Linked DNA regions of Homo sapiens. The protein of the gene in region 2 interacts with the protein of the main gene of each other region in a pairwise test. Each region holds a gene or a part of one and is shown on either strand. Other genes may lie near its edges.

Region 1 (3,812 bases), on a different chromosome or scaffold from region 2:
GAGGTCACAAGCTTCAGCATCAGACAGGGCCGGGGTCAAGTCCAGCTTTGGCATTAGCTAAGCTGCATGACCTTAAGCAACCCATGTTAAACCTCTGAGCCTGTATCTTCCAGCCTGCACCAACAGGGCGGAGGAGGAAGCAGGGCCAGGGAAGGCGCCCGGCACACACAGCTTGGCTTACGAAGGGGAAGACCCGACTGTGCAAGGACACGGAATAAGCACGAGCTTGGGGGCAGACGGGGTGGGGACTTTCTCACTAGAAAAGAGCCTGGGGGCCTCCATCAGGGTAGGGGGTGAGAGGGCTCCAGAGAGCTGGGCCCCAGCCAGTGGCCCCGGGTGCACACTGCTCCAGGCCTGGCTCCCTCACCAATGCCCAGGTGCGTGTTGATGGAAGCGTAGCGGGCCGTGCCGGTCAGGTTCTTGTTTTCCCGGTAGGGAATGTGCTGGTGGGTGCGGGCGTCCCGGTACTTCTTGGCCAGGCCGAAGTCGATGATGTAGACCAGGTTGCCCTTCTTCCCCAGCCCCATGAGGAAGTTGTCGGGCTTGACGTCCCGGTGGATGAAGTTCTTGGAGTGGATATACTCGATGCGGCTGATCTGGGGAGGAGGGGGGCCATTTGTTCAACAGAGGGGCCCTTGCCTAGCACTCTGGGCCAGGCAGGGGCTGGGGCCACAGAGGTGGAAAGGCAGAGGGAGAAAGGCCTGCCTTCGACCATGAAGGATAACTAAGGGGCAGGCCAGAGAAGGCCTCCTGGAAAATGTGACATCAGGATGAACTCTAAAGGGGGAGTTCACCAAGTTGGCTGTGAGACAGAGAAAGAGAGTATTGCAGGAAAGCTAATGGGAAGATCCAGAAATGAAGAGTCTGCTAGAAAGGCAACTGGTTCCCCATGGAAGGCTTGCCTGCCCGGCCCCACACTCACAGGACTTAGGGAGCCAGAGAGGCAACAGATGTGGGCGAGGGGCAGGCAGGGAACATGGGGGAAGCCTAGACCAGGAAGAGGTGACAGAGGCAGAACACAAAAGACAGGGCTTCCGAAGGATGCCAAACTCAGACAGGCACATGGCCCTCTTTCCTTTGATATTTTTTTTTTTGAGATGGAGTCTCGGTCTGTTGCCCAGGCTGGAGTGCAGTGGCAAAATCTCGGCTCACTGCAACTTCTGCCTTCAGGGTTCAAGTGATTTTCCTGCCTCAGCCTCCCGAATAGCTGGGACTATAGGCACGCGCCACCACACCTGGCTAATTTTTTGTATTTTTAGCAGAGATGGCGTTTCACCATGATGGTCAGACTGGTCTCAAACTCCCGATCTCAGGAGATCCGCCTGCCTCGGCCTCCCAAAGTGCTGGGATTACAGACTTGAGCCACCTTTTCAGTCGAGTTTTTAAAACTCAAACTAATATCCATCCACATGCCGTGGCCTCTGGCTCTGGCCCCAGGTTCAGCACAGCTCAACATCTCCTGCACCTTTCTTGAGTTTCACACCATGAGGGGCTCTGGCGACCCTCTGCTCACACACCTTCAGCCTACATCGCAGGGCTTTTGCAGACCAAGATTAAAACCCCTGTACGAGATCTCCACATTCCATTCCAAGTTCAAAATTCTACAGTTTTGTATTTTTAAGAAGCTTTCCTCCCTATGCTGATGAAGGGCTTAGTACTTAACAACAGCCTGTTAGAGGGGCCTGTTTTGGCAAGGCGCTGAATGGTATCTCACCTAATCCCCTCAACAACCAACAAAGGAGAGACTCTCACATGAGGCCACTGAGGCTCAGAGAGGTTCGGCGTTCACCTACGGTCACTGGTCTGGAACAGGACCAGGTCTGTGTGACCGACCGCAGGCTTTACATTACCCAGGGCAGGCCAGACGTGGTGGATCATGCCTGTGATCCCGTGTTAATTCCCATCTTGGGAGGCCAAGATGGGAAGACTGCTCAAGGCCAGGAGTTTGAGACCAGCCTGGTCAACACAGTGAGACCCCCATCTCTATTTCTTACAATTAAATGATATTTTTGAAATAAATAAATAAAACTACCCCAGGCAGAGTCCCAGGCCCTGACTCGGCAGGTCTGGAGTTGGGCCTGAAATCACATTTTAAATAAACAACTTGGCTGGGCACGGTGGCTCACGCCTGTAATCCCAGCACTTTGAGAGGCTAAGATGGGCGGATCACTTGGTAAAACTCTGTCTCTACTAAAAATACAAAAATTAGCCCAGCGTGGTGGCAGGTGCCTGTAATCCCAGCTACTCATGAGGCTGAGGCAGGAGAATCGCGTGAACCTGGGAGGCGGATGTTGCAACGAGCTGAGATCGCACCACTGCGCTCCAGCCTGGGCGACAGAGTGAGACTCCGCCTCAAAAAATAAATAAACACCTACAATTCTATAGCCAGTGGACAAGGTCCCCTGGCCCAGGCCCATCCTCTGGCATCCTCTGGGGGCAGGAGGCAGGGCTGGTATCCTGGGCCCACAGGCATCTGGCTGGGGATGGAGGGGACGGGGACTCACCATCTGGTCGGCCAAGAGCAGCACCGTCTTGAGGCTGAATTTGCGGGAACAGAAGTTGAACAGGTCCTCGAGGCTAGGCCCCAGCAGCTCCATGACCATCACGTTGTAGTCGCCCTCAGCTCCGCACCACTTGATGGACGGGATCCCCACTGGGGGTCAAGCAGAGGGCCTCTGTCAGGGGTCAGAGGCAGGCAGCCAGCCACGCCCGGCCCACCCTGTGCTCATGGCTGCCCACCGCCACCCACCCGGCGCCCGCCGCCGCCCACCCTGCGCTCACCGCCACCCTGCATCATCTTGTAGAACTTGCTCTCGATGTGCAGCTGGGGGTGCTTTGTCTTCACACACTCCAGCTTGATGGCGACTTCCTCACCAGAGGCGATGTTGGCACCTGCCCGGGGCAGGGAGGCAAGGGACCAGGGTCACCCTCAAAGGCCAGGCAGTCCCAGGCGCCCCACTAAGCATTTCTGAGATCTGGCGTGTGCCGGGCCCGGGGCCATCTGCCCTTGAGGAGCTCTTGGGGGAGGCTGGGAAGGGGGCAAAGGAGCCCCGGCAAAGGGTTCCTGAGGGGAAAGAAGGTCAGCGCTGTGAGGGACAGAGGTGACACACAAGGGCTACCCAGGGCCACAGGTTGGGGCGACAAGAAGGCCCGATGTGAGTGGGGCAAGGGTCAGGTATGCAAAAGGCTCACAGACCACCTAAGGGAGGGGGCTGAGTCCTAGAGCAAATTCAGGCAGTGAGGTCTGTCGGGTTGAGATGGTGGCACGTGCAGAAGAGGCCCAATGGGGCTGGGCTGCCGAACACACCAGAACAAGCCAGGACCACCCTGGCCTACAGGATGAGGATGGGACAGCCGCAGCAACCCCTCAGTCAATGCTGATGCCTTCAGAGGCAGCCCTGCACATTCTAATCCAGTGTCTCATTCGATTCTCAACCCCCTTGTAGAGATGAGAAAACAGAGACCCAGCTAGAGACCCAGCTCAAGGTCACCTGACCTGTAAATGGCGGCCTTGAGATCAACCCCGGCTCTGCTGGCCTCCAGCATAGGTCAGAGGTCCTGCCTGCACCTCCCCGTCTCCCCCAGTCCACTCCTGGCTTCTCAAGGGGCTCTAAGAAAATACCCTCACACACACCAAGGCCCCGCTCTCTGCCTGGGCCCACTGCCCAACTCAAGAAGTCACAAGAAAGACCAAGCCCAAAGTGTACCTTGCCTCAGTTTCCCTGGCTGTATGGGTGGATGAGATGAAGGGCTGGGGCTAGGCTGGGCGACAGGGTGTCTCCTTCCTGGGGCCAGCAGCGAGCCCAGCAGGA
Region 2 (3,812 bases):
TGGTGCAAGGAATAAAAATATTGCAGCACGTCCCTTTGTGTGGCCTGGATCTCCTGACACACAATTCAGCTTCCTTCATTCCATTCTGCTGAAATTTTGTTCTGTTGTCTATGGCTAGAAGTTGAAAATCATTTCTGGTTTTGTAGAACTGTTTTTTTTTTTTTTCTGTTTTTTTTTTTTTTTTAAATTGGTTATTCTGATCATGTTTGTTGTAAAGGAAGTAGAGGTGCATGATGGTTCTATTGGGGGCGGGGCCAGTTTTCTTTTGTTTCTATTGGTGTCTCTCTCTGGATTGAGATCTGACCTTGGCCTTGGCTCTCTCACCTCCTATTTTAGGTGGACGTGTGACCAGAAATGGACATGTGAGCTAATTTTTATTAGCTCCTGTCTGTTCACCACATTCTCGTAGATTATTGGGCAAAATATCTGGCAAATTGGACTTGGGGGTGGTAATTTGATGATGGGCTGAATTATTTTGGCGAAAGATCGTTTATATTCAGTTTCACAGTGGAGACTCTTATTACTTAATGTTTTGCTTTTCTGCCTAAGGAGGTTTTTTTTTTTTTTTAATTTTTTCTAACAAGGTTTGAAATTTCAAGGGCCTGCTTTATAGTTTGACTTTGGAGCAAGCTAGGAAAAGAGGTTTGCTTATACTTCCAGCTCTGCACAGAGGTGAACTTGAACAAGGGTTCTTGCTTTTGCAGAACGAAAGCAACAAAGATGGCTGGTCAGTATAAGGCTGACCTCTCCCTCGTCCTAGAAAATAAACAGCCAATGGCTTGTTTCACTTGAGAAACTGGGTTTTAAAACTCCTCCAGTGTCAGATACAATATTTTTCTCACTTTTGACTCAGCTCTTGGCATGCTGCTTCCTCTGACCTCAGAATCCTTACGTCTTCTCCTTGGTGGGTGATAAGAACTTCCTTGCCATATATGACTGATGTATATAAGCCGACTTCTCATGGTCATGAGGAAATTTTGAATTTTTTCCATGTTCTTGTGATGTTTTGGGTCAGTTGTACCTTCTTTCTGGTGATGTAAAATGAAGTGGCTCTTTTCAGGAGCCCTAGCCCCCACAAGGTCTTGCTGTGTGACCTTGGACAAATCACTTTTTCCTTCAGAGCCTCAATTTTTGCATTTATAAAATGAACACTTGGGATCAGATCAAGGATAATAATAAATAGGTTTCATTTCTGATTGTAACTCCAAGGAATTGGTTATGGCTGCCTGGATCACTGTGTTGAGAAGGATTCTGAGGCCATATCCCGACTCCCATATTCTAGAGAGAGGGGTGCAGTGGCCAAACAGCATTGTAAATCAGAGTGGAGAGTGTACCTCTTAGTTACCATTCCCAGGCGAGACCTTGAATCATGGGCCATTAGTGGCCTGTGAAGTCAATTTAGTGAATCACAATCAGAATTTTTTAAAAACAAGAATAGACTAGAATATAGGGGAACAAAAAATAGCAGAGGCATACCACAGGGTACAGGTGAGTATCCTCTCATGAAACTTGTATTTATATTTGTGGATGTATGTGTGTGATTTGAAATAGATTTCCTCCTGTGGGTCACGGCCAAAAGAGTTTGAAAGGTACTGGACTAGCTGAACCGCCATGATGTGCTGCAGGTATACTGCACTTTATTGCTTATACTTTATTTTTGCATTTATTATCTCAATTAACTTTTAGGTGAACCCTGTGGGTTAGGTGTCCTGTGCCACATATTTTGAGCCCTGGTTGAGCCCACTTCAAGGGCCACATATGAAGAAAGCTCAGCCACATGGGCAGCCCAGGCACATACCCCAGCTTGTTGGCCTTGGATGAGTCTGGAAGGACATATGGAAAGGCAGATACAAGTTTGAAGGCAGCGTCTTTGCAAGGTCTTCTTGCTGGAGAGGAGATCTAAAGTGTGTGGAGTCCTTGTCTTTTGTTCCCCACTTTTAGTTTAAATTGCCAGAGAAATTTTTCTGGAGTTAGAGAGTCTGTGTTTGTGCTATATTTAATTTAATCAGACAAAAACACAGTCTGTATTTTTGTGTGTGTGCACTTCCTTAAAAATCCCAGAATTTCTGTCTTAGTCTCCTCATCTTTTAAATGTGTCAGGTCAGCGCTAATAGAAATATAATTCAAGCCCCCGTTGCGAGCCACATATATAATTTTTAATTTTCTCACAGTGTATTAAGGAAAGTAAAAGAAACGGGTGCCATTGATTTTAACATATTTAACTCAGTATATCCATAATACTATCCTTTCATCAAGCCATCCATATGAAAATTATTAATGTGACAAGTTACAGTCTTTTGCGGGGGTGCTATTGAGTCTTTGAAATCTAATGTATTTTACTCCTACAGTACATCTCAATTCTGACCAGCCACATTTCACCTGTTCAGCAGCCACATGTGGCTGGTGGCTACTATATTGGACAGCTCAGGTTTGGACCAGTTGTCGTCATCACTGGCTGGCCCCAGAAGGGTAGCAACACCTTTCAGACCTCTTGGTTTTGTTGGTGAGACTTCCTATCAGAATCTCACATGCTCTGAGGCATTTCAGCCTGTAGTGATGATGAGTTCCATCCATATAGCTCTCCTGGCTAGAGTAGCCCACATTTCCCTTTTATTTGTCCCAACGCAGACTTCTGCCAGGGTTAGGCCACTGTGCTGTAGTTAAAAATGACAAATGATGGCTAGTAACTCCGGGATGATGTGTTGCAGCCTGTGAGCTGTTGAAGTCAAGGAGTGTGAGTCCGGGAGGCTGTTGCTTTTTGAAGTGCATTTTAAATAAAGTGTTGCCAGAGAGAAGGATGAAGTTGCAAAAAGGCAGCAGGTGGCCAGGACCAGGGCTGGGGTCTGAGGAGAGGAAGGAGATCAGAGGTAAAAGATGGCCTGGCAATGAAATCTATTTCTGAGCCAAAAACATGGCATCAGCAGGAAATCCCCCCAGGCCAGGCCTTAGGTCAGATGCATAGAGATTTTCCGAATCCACCCCAATTGGGAAAATGGAAAGCTGGGTTTGAGGTCTGCCAGACCAGAGTTTGAAATCCAGCCTCATGGTGTGGTTAGCTTTGTGTGACTTCGGGAAAGTCACTCTGGTTCTGGAACCACAGCTTCTACATCTGGGAAAAGAGGGTTAATGATCCCAGCCTTGCAGGGTTGTTTTAGGATTAAATGAAGGGGTCACATGTGGAGACTCTCAGCCGGTCTGAGGGCCTGAGTAGGTGGTCGACGCATGTGAGTTGACTCAACCCAGTGGCCAGGGATTCTCCATTTGGGGAGATTAAGTCCCACTGACAACACTTGGGGTAGTCCTGGAAACCTGGTGGCTTATCGTTAGCAGGCAAAGTTAGGCGACAAGTGAGAATGTACACTCTTGGCTGTTGCTTTAAAACAGCCTGCCATCCATGAGACTTTCTTGTTAAAGCATTCTGGATGCTTTCATTCCGGGGCTGCTCTAGCTCCTTGGAATGTTTCTGGATTTGTTTCTGAGCCTGTGGCAAGGCTTTAAAAGGGATACATCTCAATCGCGGGTGGACCTGTATGTCTTTGAGCTTCTGCTCATGCTGGGGCCCTTGCCTCTGGTGCCCCTTCCCTCATTCATATCTGCTTCGTGAGAAACCAGACCCTCCTCGAGATCAGCTGCACTTCTTCTTCTGTAGAGCTCCCCCAACAAATTTCCCCAGGTAGGCTTCCTCTCCCTCTGCCCCCATGGTACCTCCCAAACAATGTGGACCCACAGGTCAGAGTTGGTTGTTTGCATTTCTGCTTCTCCAGCCAACTTGTAACATCTGTGAGGGTAGAGATCACCGGTTATTCATTTTA

Evidence for each region.
Region 1: the proteins of ZNF618 (region 2) and CSNK1E interact in binary tests that used the Homo sapiens proteins (3 or more experiments, as listed by UniProt).

What each region holds. Positions count from the first base shown.
Region 1 is NC_000022.11:38,300,357-38,304,168, forward strand, and holds part of CSNK1E (casein kinase I), read right to left. Parts: intron 2,893-3,812; coding exon 2,782-2,892; intron 2,654-2,781; coding exon 2,505-2,653; intron 597-2,504; coding exon 368-596; intron 1-367. Other genes in the region: TPTEP2-CSNK1E (casein kinase I), read right to left, coding at 368-596, 2,505-2,653, 2,782-2,892.
Region 2 is NC_000009.12:113,879,230-113,883,041, forward strand, and holds part of ZNF618 (zinc finger protein 618), read left to right. Parts: intron 1-3,812. UniProt on the Homo sapiens protein: Regulates UHRF2 function as a specific 5-hydroxymethylcytosine (5hmC) reader by regulating its chromatin localization.